Linked DNA regions of Homo sapiens. The protein of the gene in region 1 interacts with the protein of each later gene in a biochemical or structural test. Each region holds a gene or a part of one and is shown on either strand. Other genes may lie near its edges.

The links.
Region 2: the proteins of ANP32B (region 1) and CHAF1A form a complex in vitro, tested with the Homo sapiens proteins (one study listed by BioGRID).

Annotation. Positions count from the first base shown.
Region 1 is NC_000009.12:98,006,471-98,015,017, forward strand, and holds part of ANP32B (acidic leucine-rich nuclear phosphoprotein 32 family member B), read left to right. Parts: intron 1-4,800; coding exon 4,801-4,919; intron 4,920-5,950; coding exon 5,951-6,002; intron 6,003-8,547. UniProt on the Homo sapiens protein: Multifunctional protein that is involved in the regulation of many processes including cell proliferation, apoptosis, cell cycle progression or transcription.
Region 2 is NC_000019.10:4,405,098-4,413,644, forward strand, and holds part of CHAF1A (chromatin assembly factor 1 subunit A), read left to right. Parts: intron 1-814; coding exon 815-865; intron 866-3,805; coding exon 3,806-4,662; intron 4,663-5,407; exon of another isoform or gene 5,408-5,426; intron 5,427-8,547. UniProt on the Homo sapiens protein: Acts as a component of the histone chaperone complex chromatin assembly factor 1 (CAF-1), which assembles histone octamers onto DNA during replication and repair.

The sequences.
Region 1 (8,547 bases):
AACATGAGTAAAAAACGTCGCTGGAGAGCTTCTTTGAGAAGGGGGAAAGACCCAATAATGAGACAGCAGAAGACAAGACTGCCAATGAAAAGAAAGCTTCATTGAAAAGAAAATACCAAGAGTGCTACTTAAATTACAGGTTCATTGCAACAGATGATTCACATTCTCCAAGCCCACTTTGTATAATATGTGGCAACAAGCTATCCAACAAAGCCATGAAACCTTCAAAACCACTTCACTGGCTGGGCACAGTGGCTCATGCCTGTAATCCCAGCACTTACAGAGGCCGAGGTAGATCACCTGAGGTCAGGAGTTCAAGACCAGCCTGGCCAACATGGGGAAACCCTGGCTCTGCAAAAATACAAAAATTAACCAGGCATGGTGGTGCACACCTTTAGTCCCAGCTTCTCGGGAGGCTGAGGCATGAGAATTGCTTGAACCTGGGAGGCGGAGGTTGCAGTGAGCCGAGATTGTGCCGCTGTGCTTTAGCCTGGGCGATAGAGCAAGACTCCATCTCAAAAAACAAACAAACAAAAAAAAAACTGCTTCACCACTTGGAGACCAAGCACCCTGCGTTTAAAAGACAAGCCTTTGGAGTTTTTCAAAAGAAATAAACATGAACGTGAAAAACAGAGGCAATTATTGAAAGCTCCCACTTCATCAAATGTGACTGCACTGAGAACATCTCATTCTTAGTGGCTAACTGCATTGCTAAAGCTAAGAAGCCCTTAACTAACTGCATTGCTAAAGTAAGAAGCCCTTTACTATTGAAGAGTTGATCCTGCCTGCTGCTAAGGACATTTGTCATGAACTTTTAGGAGAGGCTGCAGTTAAGCTGCAGTTCAAAAGGTGGCACATGTTCCTCTTTGAGCTAGCACCATAACTAGATGAATTGATGACATAGTAGAGGATATTGAGGCATAGTTGTTAGAGAGGATTGATGAGTCACCGTGGTACACATTGCAGGTTGACAAGTCTGCCGATGTTGACAACATGGCAACAATGCTTGTTTTTGTGCAATATATTTTCAGGAGGATGTGCATGAGACTATGTTATGTGTACTTCGTTGCCAACCAGCACCACAGCTGCAGAACTATTCAAGTCTTTTGAACGATTACATATCAGGAAAACTGAATTGGTCATTTTGTGTCGTATATGCACAGATGGAGCGGCTGCCATGGCTGGACGGCTTTCTGGTTTCACTACTCGAGTCAGAGAGGTCGCTTCTGGATGTGAGTCTATGCACTGTGTCATCCATAGAGAAATGCTGGCTAGCTGACAAATGTCACCTGAACTTAACGTTTTGCAGGATGTGATTAAAATTAACCACATTAAAGTACATGCCCTTAACCCATGTCTGTTCACGCAGTTCTGTGAGATGGATGCAGAGAATACTTCTCTTACACAGAGAAGCGAGATGGCGTTCTAAAGGTGGATCACTGGCCAGAGTTTTTGAGTTAAGAGGCCTGCTCCAGAGATTTCTCTAAGAATAACAGTCACCACTAGCAGAACATTTTAGTAACACAGAATGAGTGGTAAAACTTTTTTTTTTAAGTTCAGGGGTACATGTGCACGTTTGTCGCAGAGATAAACGTGTACCATCCCATCACCTAAGTATTAAGCCCACTGTCCATTAGCTAGTTTTCCTGATGCTCTCCGTCCCCAGCCTCCACAGGCCCCAGTGTGTGTTGTTCCCCTCCATGTGTCCATGTATACTCATCATTCAGCCCCCACTTACAAGTGAGAACATACGATACTTAGTTTTCTGTTCTGAGCATTGGGATTTTTGACATGTTTCAAACAGTAGGAGTGATTTTTGAAAGAGAGTGAGCCAGGGCCTTCTTTCTCACAGCTGGTGCATGATCACCTATCTCAGCTCTCAAAAGAGTTTGAGCATTACTTCCCAACCACAAAAGACCCCCGAACTGGGAAGGAATGGATCCACAACCCATTTATGAATAAGCCAGGTCAATCGACTTTGTTCATGCTTGAAGAGGATCAACTGGTTGAGATCACAAATGGCAGTGGCCTTAAAAGTATGGTTTGAGACAACTTCAAAATCTCCATATATTCTGGATTAAAGTCGAGGTGGAATATCCTGAGATTGCCAAAAAAGCACTGAAAAACCTGCTTCCATTTCCAATATCCTATCTTTGTGAAGCAAAGTTTTCTGCAGTGACAGCAACCAAAACAAGATTATGGAGTATACTGGACATAAGCAGCACACACTTCGAATGTCACTGTCTCTCATTGCCCCCAGATGGGACTGTCTAGTTGCAGGGAAAACAAGCTCAGGGTTCCCATTGATTCCACATTATGATGAGTTGTATAATTATATCATTATATATTACAATGTAATAATAGAAATAAAGTGCAGAATAAACATAATGCGTTTGAATCATCCTGAAACCATCCCCCCACCCCCAGGCTGTGGAAACATTGTCTTCCACAAAACTGGTCCCTGGTGCCAAAAAGGTTGAGGACCGCTGTCCTACTGCACTACAGTCATCATCTTGGGTAGATACTTATCTCCTGATTCACAGGGCCTGACACTGAGTAGGTACTTGGTACCTGTTTGTTATTGCCAGCTATAAATAAAATAGCTTTCCCTTCCATTGACATATGACCAGAGTTTTAAAAGGTAATGATTTCAAATAACTATATGTTAGATTCCGTTTTTCATTCATAAGGGAAATAATCTCTGATCATAACATAGAATTAAAAGATGATTTTCAGTAGTTTTGGCATTTGACCCAGGATTTATACATATTTTACAGATTTACAGATTTTAAGAAATAACTAATACTTTCTACCCAAGATATTCCTCCTGATTAGTTTGTGTTTTCTTTGCATGCTGAGTTTGTTTATTCTCAGTCACTCTTAGAATAAAACGCTTCTCACGTACAGGTGGCTTAGAGCAGCAGTCTCCAACCTTTTTGGCACCAGGGACTGGTTTCATGGAAGACAGTTTTTCCACAGATGCAGGGAAGGGGTTGGGGGCGGCAGCTGAATGGTTTTGGGATGAAACGGTTCCACCTTAGATCAGGCATTAGATTCTCATAAGGAATGCACAGTCCAGATCCCTCACATGCGCAGTTCACAATAGAATTTGCACTCCTATGAGGATCTAACAGGTGATGTGACAGGAGGCGGAGTTCACGTGGTAATGGTCACTGGCCTGCTCTTCACCACCTGCTGTGCGGCCCAGGCCACAGACCAGTACCAGTCCTGGGAGTTGGGAACCCCTGGTTTGGAGGAAGCAGAATGATTAGTTTTCACATCAGTCAGCATGAGTATTTCTTTTCTTTAAAAATTAGCACATATGACAGAAATTATCAAGAAAATAGAGGAGGAAAAGCATCAAGGAGTTTGGGTGCAGTTAATGGTATAATTCTCTGGAAGCATTTTTACAGTTTTATTTTGAAGCATATTGAGACAGGCAAAAATTAATGAGTTATAAGGTGGTAAAATGGACAGAGAATAGGACATCTCACTTATTTCCAAATGTTATGTCCCTTTGTCCCTTCTACAGTTTTTCCATTTTTCCTAAAAACCATTTGTGCTTGTTGTCTATTTAAGTTCACCTCAAACAGGAAGAACAGCCACATGTGCAAGAGCCAGTAAAGGACATTCCTTGGAAGGTGGGGGGCAGTTCCTGAGAGCAAAGATGGGTCAGCCAACAAATACTTGAGCATTTCCTATGTGCCAGGCACTGCGGAAAATAGTGGTTTAAAAAAAAAAGGAACAAAAAAACAAGGTTCCTACCCTCTTGGACCTTACAGAGAAATGGTGTTTTTTTTTTTTTGTTTTTTTTTTTTAAATCATAAATAGGCTAGGTATGGTGGCTCACACTTGTAATCCCAACACTTGGGGAGGGTGAGGCAGGATGATTGCTGGAATCCAGGAGTTCAAGACCAGCCTGGGCAACATAGACAAACCCTATCTGTACAGAAAAAATTGTTTTAAATTAAGAATTCTAAATAATAATTGCAAGTAAGCAAAGTGTGTTGTAATGGAGAAGCACCACATACTCATGGTGAGAGCCTATGACCTGGCATTGGGAGGTCTGGTGAGTAAGACTGCCTAAGGAAGTGATGTTGACTGAGACTCCAAGGTGGAGTCAGAGTTAGCCAAGCAAAGAGGATGGAAAGAGCATGCAGAGACCAGGAGGCAGGTGAGAGCATGGTGTGCTCTAGGACCCAGGAGAAGCAAGAACTGCCGCACTAGAGGTCCGAACAACCAGCTAGAGATGCAGGTGCCTCTCAGCCTCCTGTCCCCTGAGTCACAGGGTTATTATGGGTGTTTCTCAGGTTCCTGATTTGAGCAGCTGACTGTGACTCTGGTAATGATACCCAAGAGAAGGTACATGATTTTTTTTTTTTTAACTTTTTACTGTCAAAAATTTCAGACAGTGACAAAGGGTAAAAATAATAGCAAAATGAACCCCCATGTTCTTATCACTCAGCTTCAGCAATTATTGGTCATAGCTGATCTTATTTTATTCCTGCATACCCTTACCTTCTTCCCCACTCCATATAATTTTGAAGCAAATCTTAGCCATTGTATCATTTCATCAGCGAGAATTATAGTGTTTGTCTTATCTACCAGGACTTCTAGCTCTCTGATTTTATGGGACTCTATCGGACAAAGGGACTGAGCTGTAGCACATAGTAGAAAGAAAGTGACTGCAGTTCGTGGCCTTACAGCATTTGTTCTGTGAGCCAGCCCACAGATCCTCAACACTTTGTCCCCTGTGGAGCGTCGAGGATATTTAATGAATCCCTTTTGGACTATTTTTAGAAGGAGAAGATGAGGAAGACGAGGACGATGAGGATGGTGAAGAAGAGGAGTTTGATGAAGAAGATGATGAAGATGAAGATGTAGAAGGGGATGAGGACGACGATGAAGTCAGTGAGGAGGTCAGTGCAGCTGTTTTCTACCCTGCTTCCTATTTGTAATTACAACAAAAGTGGGGGTTTCAAAAAGATGACAAAAGAAAAGAAAAAACACCTTTTGAAGAAATTAGTATACCTGTGAATACATTTACAATATGAATCTGGTTAATTTAGTGTTTGTCTGGCTTTAAATAACTACTAAATAGAATGCCTACTGAACTCAAACTAGTACGGTTCCTGGCTGTGCAAGGTAAGTTCTGGCCCTCTGGGGGAAGGAATGAATTGAGTATTCAGTGTGGTGAGAAAACTGGACATGTTGAGAATTGATGGTATGTCTGTTCCTTCATTGAATTGTAGGGAAGTTTATGTTTACCAAGTCTAAACTTTTTCTTGTATATTCAGTGTAATTCAGTAAATATATATCTGCTATGTTAAAGAGTTGGGAGTACAAAATGAAATGAGATTGTGGTCCTGCCCTGAAAGAGCACAGTCTGGTTTATGAAATACCCAATAATAGAGGATCCCTGAGGAAATAAATGCTATACGAGGGCAGGAGAAAACAGTGTCTTGACTTTGACCCTCAAAGAGGTTTGGGAAACAGGCAGACAACATTAGTTGTTAACAAAACGCATCCTCTTTTGTAGTATAAAAATAAGGCTTGGGGTTTGTGTGATGTCATTAGGTGTATGATTGACATTAAAGTTCTGAAAGAAGCTTTGTATATGAATGGGATATAGAAATTTTTGTCTAAATCTGTTTTGAAATTTGAGATTTTAAGATGTTTTCTTGAATTATCCAGAGTTATATACTAATTAAACATCTAGCAAATGAACTGCTTGCTTCTAAAAAAAATTTTTCTTAGAAAAATTATAAAGCTCGTTAAGGAAAATCAGTGGGTCTTGGTACATCAAAGTAGATAAAAATAACATTACAGTTTCCTGCTTGATTGATATTGTTGCATTTATTTGTACTTCTTAGTTTGGCAGAATTTGTACTATATGCACTTTTCAATTTGGCAGAATTAATTTAATGTTATGCTGTTTGCTATTCTTTAGGAAGAAGAATTTGGACTTGATGAAGAAGATGAAGATGAGGATGAGGATGAAGGTGGGCCTAATGCATGCATTTTGATCATTCTCAGTTAAAAATTAGAGAAAAACATCCATTATTTAGAATATGATACCACTGAGAAGAAAATAAAATACTCTTGGCTCTGGTGGTTTACACATTCACATTCTCGTTTCTATCGTCCCATCAGTGTGTCTGTGCTGGTGCAGGCTCCCTGCTGCTACAGCAGTTATTCCTGTCTCATGGCAAGGGTCCTGTTGGTCTTCAGTCCTCATGGGGTTTTTTTCGGGGTGGTGGTGGTGGTGGTGGTGTTTTGAGACGGAATCTCGCTCTGTTGCCCAGGCTGGAGTGCAGTGGCACGATCTCGGCTCACTGCAAGTTCCGCCTCCTAGGTTCAAGCCATTCTCCTGCCTCAGCCTCCAGAGTAGCTGGGGCTACAGGCGCCTGCCACCACGCCCAGCTAATTGTTTGCATTTTTAGTAGAGACGGGGTTTCACCGTGTTAGCCAGGATGGTCTCAATCTCCTGACCTCGTGGTCCACCCGCCTCAGCCTCCCAAAGTGCCGGGATTACAGGCGTGAGCCACCACACCCGGCCTGTTGTTTTCTTGAGATGGAGTCTTGCTCTGTCGCCCAGTCTGGAGTTCACTGGTGCAATCTAAGCTCACTGCAGCCTCCACCTCCCAGGTTCAAGGGATTCTCTGCCTCAGCCTCCTCAGTAGCTGGGATTACAGGCATGCACCACCACACTTGGCTAATTTTTGTATTTTTAGTAGAGACAGGGTTTTGCCATGTTGGCCAGCCTGGTCTTGAATTCCTGGCTGAATTCAAGTGATCCACCCACCTCGGCCTCCCAAATTACTCGGATTACAGGTGTGAGCCACCATGCCTAGCCTGTTCCCCATGTTTTAAATGTGTTTTTAGGACCAGTCATTTGGTTTACTGTCAAGTGTGAGTTTCTGTGTTTGGAGTTCTTTCATTTTTTAAAAAAAGGCTTTAATAATTGAACCATCATTTTCAGGATATATAAATAGATGTAGCAGTTTCCCAGTTTTGTCAGTGTTAGTCCTTTCCCCACTACAACCAAGACAAATGAAATAGCTGTTACTTATTTAATACTGTTGAAAGTATGCCAGCCTGGACAACATAGACCCTGTCTGTACAGAAAATTAAAAAGTTAGCTGGGACCGGGTGTGGTGACTCACGCCTGTTATCTCAGCACTTTAGGAGGCCGAGGCAGGTGGATCACCTGAGGTCAGGAGTTCGAGAGCAGCCTGGCCAACATGGTAAAATCCTGTCTCTACTAAAAATTAAAAAATTAGTCAGGCGTGGTGGCACGCACTCAAACCCAGGAGGCAGAGATTCAGTGAGCTGAGGTCATGCCACTGCACTGCAGCCTGGACAACAGAGCAAGACTCTGTCTCAAAAAAAAAAAAAAGTTAGCTGCACATGGTGGTGCACACCTATAGTCCCAGCTACTTGGGAAGCTGAGGTGGGAGGACTGCTTGAAGTTGCAGTGAGGCTATGATAGTGCCACCGCACTCCAGCCTGAGTGACAGAGGGAGACCTTGTCTCAAATAAAAAGTCTCATGGTTGTGTCTCAGAAAATCAGGTGTTCACTGTGCTGTTGGCTGATGTTTTCTCAGCATCCACTTTGTCAAGCTCTCAATTACATTTACACTAGATATTACCCTGGTTAGGACCTGGTCACTGCCTTTAAGAACCTGTATGATTGGGAGGCCGAGGCGGGTGGATCATGAGGTCAGGAGATCGAGACCATCCTGGCTAACACGGTGAAACCCCGTCTCTACTAAAAATACAAAAAAATTAGCCGGGTGTGGTGGCAGGCGCCTGTAGTCCCAGCTACTCGGGAGGCTGAGTCAGGAGAACGGCATGAACCCGGGAGGCGGAGCTTGCAGTGAGCCGAGATCAAGCCACTGCACTCCAGCCTGGGCGACGGAGCCAGAGTCTGTCTCAAAAAAAAAAACAACCTGTATGAAATATGATTTAACATATAGTTAATTTCATTAAAATAACCATGGATTTTATTAGTTGAAAAAATTGGTCTATATGTAAGTCTCTGTGTCTCGACTACATAATACTCTTAAGAATTTCCTTTTTAGTTAATATTAGTTTGCTACAATTTGAGTCTTAATGATGTTCCATACTATGTTTTGTGTGTTATTTAATTCTCAGAATAACCTTTTAAAGTCAGTACCATTGTCCCCATTTTACAGATGAAAAAGGCTTAAAGAGGTTAAGCTTGTCTGAGATCACTTGAAAGTAAGCATGTCTTGAAGACGTGCTAGATAGCACGAGGGGTTTTGTTTTGTTTTTTTGGAGACAGTTTCGCTCTTATCACCCAGGCTGGAGTCCAGTGGCACAATCTCAGCTCACTGCAACCTCCGCCTTCCGGATTCAAGCAATTCTCATGCCTCATCATCCAGAGTAGCTGGGATTACAGGTACATGCCACCATGCCTGGCTCATTTTTGTATTTTTAGTAGAGACGGAGTTTCACCATGTTGGCCAGGGTGGTCTGGAACTCCTGACCTCAGGTGATCTGCCTGCCTTGGCCTCCCAAAGT
Region 2 (8,547 bases), on another chromosome or scaffold:
TCATTCCACTTTCATTTCATGAAACAGTTCCGGTTACTCTCTTAGTTGGCTTTCTGATTTATTCCAGACCCTAACCAGGTACCATAGGTGCAGCATGGAACAAGTCTTTCTGCTGTCATAGAGTTGGCATTTTGTTTCCAGAGAGACGTAATAAACACGAAAGTTTCAGATTAAATGCCACAAAGAAAATAAAACAAGACATGACAGTGTCTAGGGTAGGATTTCTCAACCTATTAACATTTTGAGGCCAAGCGCCGTGGCCAGCACTTTGGGAGGCTGAGGCGGGTGGATCACGAGGTCAGGAGTTCGAGACCATTCTGGCTAACATGGTGAAACCCCGTCTCTGCTAAAAATACAAAAATTAGCCGAGAGTGGTGGCATGCGCCTGTAGTCCCAGCTACTTGAGAGAGTGAGGCAGGAGAATCGCTTGAACCCAGGAGGCGGAGGTTGCAGTGAGCTGAGACTGTGCCATTGCACTCCAGCCTGGGCGACAGAGTGAGACTCTGTCTCCAAAAAAAAAAAAAAAATTTTTTTTTTTTGGCCCATATAATTCTTCATTGTGGTGTGCTGTGCATTGCATTGTGGGACATTTAGCAGAATCCCTGGCCTCTACCCACTGGATGTGAATAGCATCCCTTTGAGCCCTCCCTGCATCATGACAACCAAAAACATCTCTAGACTGTGTCAAATGGCCCCCGAGGACAGAGGGGTCAGAATTGCCTCCACCTTGTACATAATTGGCTCTACATATGTATTTGCTAACTTGATTATTTGCAGAATTTAACAGTTTACCCTTTGACACTTTTATTTGCAGCCATGGATTGCAAAGATAGACCAGCTTTTCCAGTTAAGAAGTTAATACAAGGTAATTATTTGGAAATGGGTTAAAGAGTTGTTCGTAGTTTATAGTCTTCCTTGTCTCTTGTTGGAGACCTCAGTGGAAGCCTGGAGCTAGAGGGGAGAGAAACAGTCCTTCTTCAGACCAGGAAGCTGGGAAAATGCTTTTCACACAGTAATGTCTCGTGGGGTTCCCACAAGTAAACCCCGAGGCCTCCACTTATGCACGATTGGTGTTTTGTAACTTGCAGCTGGGAGCTCTCCTGTATGTTGTAGGGAGCGTAGCAGCATCCCTGGCCTCTTCCCACCGGATGCCAGTAAGTGCATCCTCCAAGTCGTAACAACCAAAAATATCTCTATACGTGGCTGATGTCCCCTGGGAGGTAGAACTGCCCCCTCAGAGAACCACTGTTGTCCTGGAAGATAAATGCTCCCAAATCCTTCTGCATAAAACGGGGAGTGTGTTCACCCTTGGGCCAGATGAGCGGTTGGATTGTAATTTTTTTTTTTTTTTTTTTGAGACGGAGTCTCATTCTGTTGCCCAGGCTGGAGTGCAGTGGTGCGATCTCTGCTCACTGCAACCTCCGCCTCCTGGGTTCAAGCAATTCTCCTCCTTCAGCCTCCCAAGTAGCTGGGATTACAGGCGCGTGCCACCACACCCAGCTAATTTTTCTATTTTTAGTAGAGATGGGGTTTTACCATGTTGGCCGGGATGGTCTCGATCTCCTGACCTTGTGATCCCCCTGCCTCAGCCTTTCAAAGTGCTGGGATTACAGGTGTGAGCCACCGCACCCGGCCCAGATTGTATTTTTAGAAACTACAGTTTTGGGTTTTTCAAACTTGGGCTGGGTGCAGTGTTGCATACCTGTAAAACCAGCTATTTGAGAGGCTGGGGTGGGAGGAGTGCTTGAGTCCAGGAGTTCAAGGCTGCGGTGAATTATAATGACACCACTGCTCTTCAGCCTGGATGACAGAGGAAGACTCTGTCTCTTGAAAAAAAGGGGGACGCCAGATGCTAGGCTCACACCTGTAATCCTAGCACTTTGGGAAGCTAAGGTGGGCGGATTGTCTGAGCTCAGGAGTTTGAAACCAGCCTGGCCAACATGGTGAAACCCCGTCTCTACTAAAATACAAAATAGCTGGGCATGGTAGGGGGCACCTGTAGTCCCAGCTACTCAGGAGGCCGAGGCAAGAGAATTGTTTGAACCCGGAAGGAAGAGGTTGCAGTGAGCCAAGGGTGCGCCACTGCACTCCAGCCTGGTGACAGAGCAAGACTCTGTCTCAAAACAAACAACTCCCCCCACACCCCCCCCAAAAAAAAACAGGTTTTTATTTGGTCTATTACATGATGAAATAGTTAATAAAAGATGCAATGGCATTGAAGTAAGTGAACATAGGTTCTTTGGGAAATTCACTCTCCAAAGTGTTTCTGTGTTCCTCCTAACCAGCCCGAAGCCTGGCAGACTCTGGGAGAACAGTTTGATTGATGAGAAAAGCCTAACAGAGCCTAGGGTGCTGAGGCCAGGAGAAAAAAAAAAAACCCTGTCCACAAATGTGTCTATATTTTCTACTTGAGAACCAGATGCAGTTATTATCAAATGAGATTTTCACCCATTAAAAATAAATTTGGAATATGAACTGCATCTGAAATAAACAAATGTCTCTTGAAATTCTGGCGATGGCTCTGCTAAAAGGCTTGTCAGGATTTTGTTTTTTAAGTTAGGATGTTGAAGCGGGGCATGGTGACTCACATCTGTAGTCCCAGCACCTTGGGAGGTGGAGGCGGGCAGATCACCTGAGGTCAGGAGTTTGAGACCAGCCTGGCCAACATGGCGAAACCCTGTCTCTACTAAAAATACAAAAATTAGCTGGGTGTAGTAGTGCATGCCTGTAATCCCAGCTACTTGAGAAGCTGAGGCAGGAGAATAGCTTGAACCCAGGAGGTGGAGGTTGCAGTGAGCTGAGGTGGCGCCATTGCACTCCAACATGGGTGACGAGCAAGACTGTCTCCAAAAGAAAAAAAAATAAGTAAAATTAGGATGTTAGAAAAGGATAGAATGAAAAGATAGCACCCCCCACCCCCTCTTTTTTTTTGAGACGAGGTCCCTTTTGCCCAGGCTGCAGAGTAGTTGCACCACCACAGCTCACTGCAGCCTCTACCTCCTGGGCTCAAGCGATCCTCCTGCCTCAGCCTCCCGAAGTGCTGGGATTATAGATGTAAGTCAGTGTACCTGGCTTCAGATAGCCCCTGCCCCGTCTTTTTTTTTTTTTTTTCTTTTGAGAGTTTCGCTCAGGTCGCCCAGGCTGGAGTGCAGTGGCGTGATCTCAGCTCACTGCAGGCTCCGCCCCCCGGGTTCACACCATTCTCCTGCCTCAGTCTCCCGAGTAGCTGGGAATGCAGGCGCCCGCCACCTCACCCGGCTAATTTTTTGTACTTTTAGTAGAGACGGGGTTTCACCGTGTTAGCCAGGATGGTCTCGATCTCCTGACCTTGTGATCCGCCTGCCTTGGCCTCCCGCACCCGGCCTTTTTTTTTTTTTTTTTTTTTTTTTTTTTTGAGAGGGAGTCTGTCTCTGTCGCCCAGGCTACAGTGCAGTGTTGGGATCTCAGCTCACTTCAACCTCTGCCTCCCAGGTTCAAGCGATTCTCCTACCTCAGCCTCCTCAGTAACTGGTATTACAGGCGTGTGCCACCATGGCCTGGCTAATTTTTGTAGTTTTAGAAAAGACGGGGTTTCACCATTTTGGTCTGGCTGGTCTCAAACTCCTGACCTTGTGATCTGCTTGCCTCGGCCTCCCCAAAGTGCTGGGATTACAGGCATGAGCCACCACACCCGGCCCAGATAGTCCCTTTTTAAACTTTAAAATTATCTCCCACCCCCATGTCCCAACAAATCAGTAATTTTCAAGCTCATGAGTGGTTGTAACTTTAAACGTTCACTAGAGATGGCTTTCTGTCTTTGTTTCAGCCCGTCTGCCGTTTAAGCGCCTGAATCTTGTCCCAAAGGGGAAAGCCGATGACATGTCAGACGATCAGGGTACTTCTGTGCAAAGTAAAAGCCCCGATTTAGAGGCCTCTTTGGACACCTTGGAAAACAACTGTCATGTGGGTTCTGACATAGACTTTAGACCGAAACTTGTCAACGGGAAGGGTCCCTTAGATAACTTTTTAAGAAATAGAATCGAAACCAGTATTGGCCAGAGCACAGTCATCATTGATTTGACAGAGGACTCGAATGAGCAGCCAGACAGTCTTGTGGACCACAATAAACTAAATTCTGAAGCCTCTCCCTCCAGGGAGGCAATAAATGGCCAGCGAGAAGACACTGGGGATCAGCAGGGGTTGTTGAAGGCCATTCAGAACGACAAGTTGGCATTTCCTGGAGAGACCCTTTCAGACATTCCTTGCAAAACAGAGGAGGAGGGTGTTGGCTGTGGAGGTGCAGGGAGGAGAGGCGACTCCCAGGAATGTTCGCCACGGAGCTGCCCGGAGCTGACGAGTGGCCCGAGAATGTGCCCCAGAAAGGAGCAGGACAGTTGGAGTGAAGCTGGGGGCATCCTGTTCAAAGGGAAGGTGCCTATGGTGGTCTTGCAGGACATCTTGGCTGTGAGACCACCGCAAATCAAGTCCCTTCCAGCCACACCCCAAGGCAAGAACATGACCCCTGAGAGTGAGGTGCTGGAATCTTTCCCCGAAGAAGACTCTGTACTCAGCCATTCGTCCCTGAGCTCTCCCTCTTCCACCAGCTCGCCCGAGGGGCCGCCTGCTCCCCCAAAGCAGCACAGCAGTACCAGTCCCTTCCCCACCTCCACGCCCCTCCGCAGAGTGAGTATCTCCCATGGAGTCCCTGCACATCAGTGCTCACGGATCTCAGAGCGCTGTCAGTCTCCACTGGGTCACCCAGGTGTTTTGTGGCAGAGTGAGCGGGGCCACGGGCTGGGTCCTGGGACTCGACGTGGAGTTCTTCCTGGTATCAAAACTCACAGTGTTCAGTTCTGCATTCGTTGTGATGCCCCTGGGACTTAATTCATCAACAGTGTACCTGGTGTACTGTGTGAATAACACCCTGCTGTTTTGCCTTCGTTGTTCACATCTAATCAGTGATAGCTTAGCCGTTTTAGGGAATTAGGATCTGAGCTGGTGCTGTAACCCCTCACTTCAGATTCGAGGTCCAGCTTTCTCTGTGCCCTTCCTGTCTAAGCATAGAAATGTAGGGACGGGGCTGCAAAGACACTGAGCACTGAAGTGGCAGTGAGACGGCAGGAAGCATGACTTGGGGAATTCTGTAGGGTCAGCACAGCCAGCCATCTTAAAAACCTTACCTGGGGCCAGGCACAGTGGCTCATGCCTGTCATCCCAGCACTTTGAGAGGCCGAGGTGGGAGGATCGCTTGAAGATCACTTCAAAACCAACCTGGGCAACATAGACACCATCTCTATGAAAAAAAATTACTTTTTTTTTTTTTTTTGACAGAGTCACTCTATCACCCAGGCTGGAGTTCAGTGGCGTGATCTCGGCTCACTGCAACCTCCACCTCCCAGGTTCAAGCGATTCTCCTGCCTCAGCATCCCTGATAGCTGGGATTACAGGTGCGCACCACCACACTTGGCTAATTTTTATATTTTTAGTAGAGACAGGGTTTCACTATCTTGGCCAGGCTGGTCTTGAATTTCTGACCTCAAGTAATCTGCCCGTCTTGGCCTCCCAAAGTGCTGGAATTATAGGCATGAGCCACTGCACCCAGCCCTGCAAAAAAATTTTTAAAAGTTATCCAGGCATGGTGGCACATGCCTGTAGTCCCAGCCACCTGGGAAACTGAGGCAGGAGGATCACTTGAGCTGAGGAGTTGGAGGCCGCAGCGAGCTATGATCACACTGCCGCGCTCCAGCCTGGGTGACAGAGCGAGACCCCATCTGGAACCATTTTTAAGGACCCCATAAGGGGGACTTTTGCATGGTCTGTCTCTGTTATTGATTTTTTATTAGCACAATGGTGTCCTTAAGGTCTTAGGGACCAAACTGATAAAATCAGTCACGAGTCCCACGGTGTTTAGTGGTGTCTTTTGATTTTATAATTTTTTACTTTTTATCTTAAGTATGTAGAACCAGAAGAGACAGTGCCTTTTTATGTTTTTGGTTTTGTAGCACTTTTGTTTGTTCATGTTGGGTCTTTATATGAGAGTAGTAGATCCTGAGATGGGTCATTTAATCTGTACCTGTAAGCAGGTACAGTAGACCACCTGGACCATAAACCACCAACCTTGTTCGCTTTCGGGATTTTGAGCTCTAAGGAACCATTTATTTATTTATTTTTGAGACAGAGTCTTGCTCTGTCACCCAGGCTGGAGTACAATGGCGCCATCTCAGCTCACTGCAACCTCCGCCTCTTGGGTTCAAGCAATTCTCCTGCCTCACCCTCTCAAGTAGCTGGGATTAGAGGCACCCGCCACCATGCCCAGCTAATTTTTGTATTTTTAGTAGAGACGGGGTTTTGCCATGATGGCCAGACTGATTTCAAACTCCTGACCTCAGGTAATCCACCCGCCTTGGCCTCCCAAGTTTCTGGGATTATAGGCGTGAGCCACTGTGCTTGGCCAAGAGCATTTATTTTTCTGAATGACTTCATTTCTTGTCTTTCACCTGAGAAGATGAAAAAGGAAAAAATGGCTTCCTCTTTAGGTTTATGAAATGTTGTAAAAATGGTGCAAATCTTTTTTTTTTTTTTTTTTTTTGAGACATGGTCTCACCCTGTCGCCCAGGCTGGAGGGCAATGGCATGGTCTCAGCCTACTGCAGCCTCCACCTTCTAGGTTCAAGCGATTTTCCTGCGTCAGCCTCTTGAGTAGCTGGGATTACAGGTGCCCACCACCACGCCTGGCTAATTTTTGTATCTTTTCAGTAGAGACGGGTTTCACCATGTTGGCCAGGCTGGCCTCAAACTTCTGACCTCAGGTGATCCGCTTGCCTCGGCCTCCCAAAGTGCTGGGATTACAGGCATGAGCCACCGCCCCAGTCTTCTACTTTGTTTTATATGTGCTGGTTTGTTATATAGGTAAACTCTTGTCGTGGGGGTTTGTTGTACAGATTATTTTATCACTCAGGTACTAAGCCTAGTACCCTCTTCTAAGTTACTAAATGTGCCAGACTGGCATGTACACATTTCAGCTTCTACCTAATCCACCACTCAATCTCCCAAAATCAGAGTTGAAGTCTCTCCCCATTGGGCATCCTGTAGTGTACATTCGATCACTTGAATTTCTTCCAGGCTGCTGCCGCTTTGCAAAATTTCGTCCTGTGATGTGAGCCATTTAGCAAGAACGGGACACATGGCTGGGCGCGGTGGCTCACACCTGCAATCCCAGCACTTTGGGACGCCGAGGCGGGTGGATCACCTAAGGTCGAGAGTTCAAGACCAGGCTGACCATTATGGAGAAACCCCGTCTCTACTAAAAATACAGAAAATTAGCTGGGTATGGTGACGCTTGCCTGTAATCCCAGCTACGCCGGAGGCTGAGGCGGGAGAACCGCTTGAACCCAGGAGGCAGAGGTTGCGGTGGCCTGAGATCGTGCCATTGCACTCCAGCCTGGGTAACAAGAACAAAACTCCGTCTCAAGAAAAAAAAAAAGGACAGGACACAAGCACATGTTTCCATTAAGTTTGTTTCCATGTCCACAGCTTAGTCTGCAAACTGGGAAGTCCCCTCGTTGGGCATCATGGTGGCACAATCCTGCCCGCTTTCTAAAACAACTGAGCACATGAACCCAGTGTGCAACATTTAGGAAACCCTGCATTTAGGACGCTAGATCTTGTTCTGAACACAGACTCGAGGTTTTGGGATGCACTTGAAGGCAATATTATCCCAACTTTTCAGATAATTTACAAGTGGTAAAGGCTTCAGGCTGGCCCAGAGCCTATGGCAGAAAGCGGCCACAACCACCCGCAGAGGGCCTGTCAGTCACCGAAGCTATGAGGGAAGCGATTATCGGGAGGCCTCCTCATGCCCTGATGGCAGGGATCCCTGAGATCCCAGCTGAGAGAGACTCCATCCCCAACCCCTACTTTATCTCCGAACCTTTAAGGAGTCCTGCATTTCTGGTTTGGTTGGTTTGCTTGCTTCATAGTTGGTACCTAACTCTTTTTTATTTTTTATTTTTTTTGAGGCGGAATCTCACTCTTTTGCCCAGGTTGGAGTGCAATGGCGTGATCTTGGCTCCTGCAACCGCTGCCTCCTGGGTTCAAGCAATTCTCCTGTCTCAACCTCCCAAGTAGCTGGGATTACAGGCACGCGCCACCAGGCCCAGCTAATTTTTGTATTTTTAGTGGAGATGGGGTTTCACCGTGTTGGACAGGCTGGTCTCGAACTCCTGACCTCGTGATCCGCCCGCCTCGGCCTCCCAAAGTGCTGGGATTACAGGTGTGAGCCACCGCGCCTGGCCAGTTGGTACCTAACTCTTAACACCTTTCCTTGCCGTGACGTCCAAGCCACCCCCTTCCCACAACCCCTGTTCCTCTGGGGAATACACTGTTTTTGCACTTTACCTCCCTACCAGCAGCTCTTTCCAGATTGCAGGGGCGAGCTGGTGGGAAGCTTGCAGATTGTTTCGCACTGCCGTGTAATCTGTGTGCTTGTCACTGGGGTCTGTTCTTCCTTGAGTTGGTACAGTGAAATATGCATTGAGAGTCCCAGGGCAGTCATTGCCACTGTACTTTG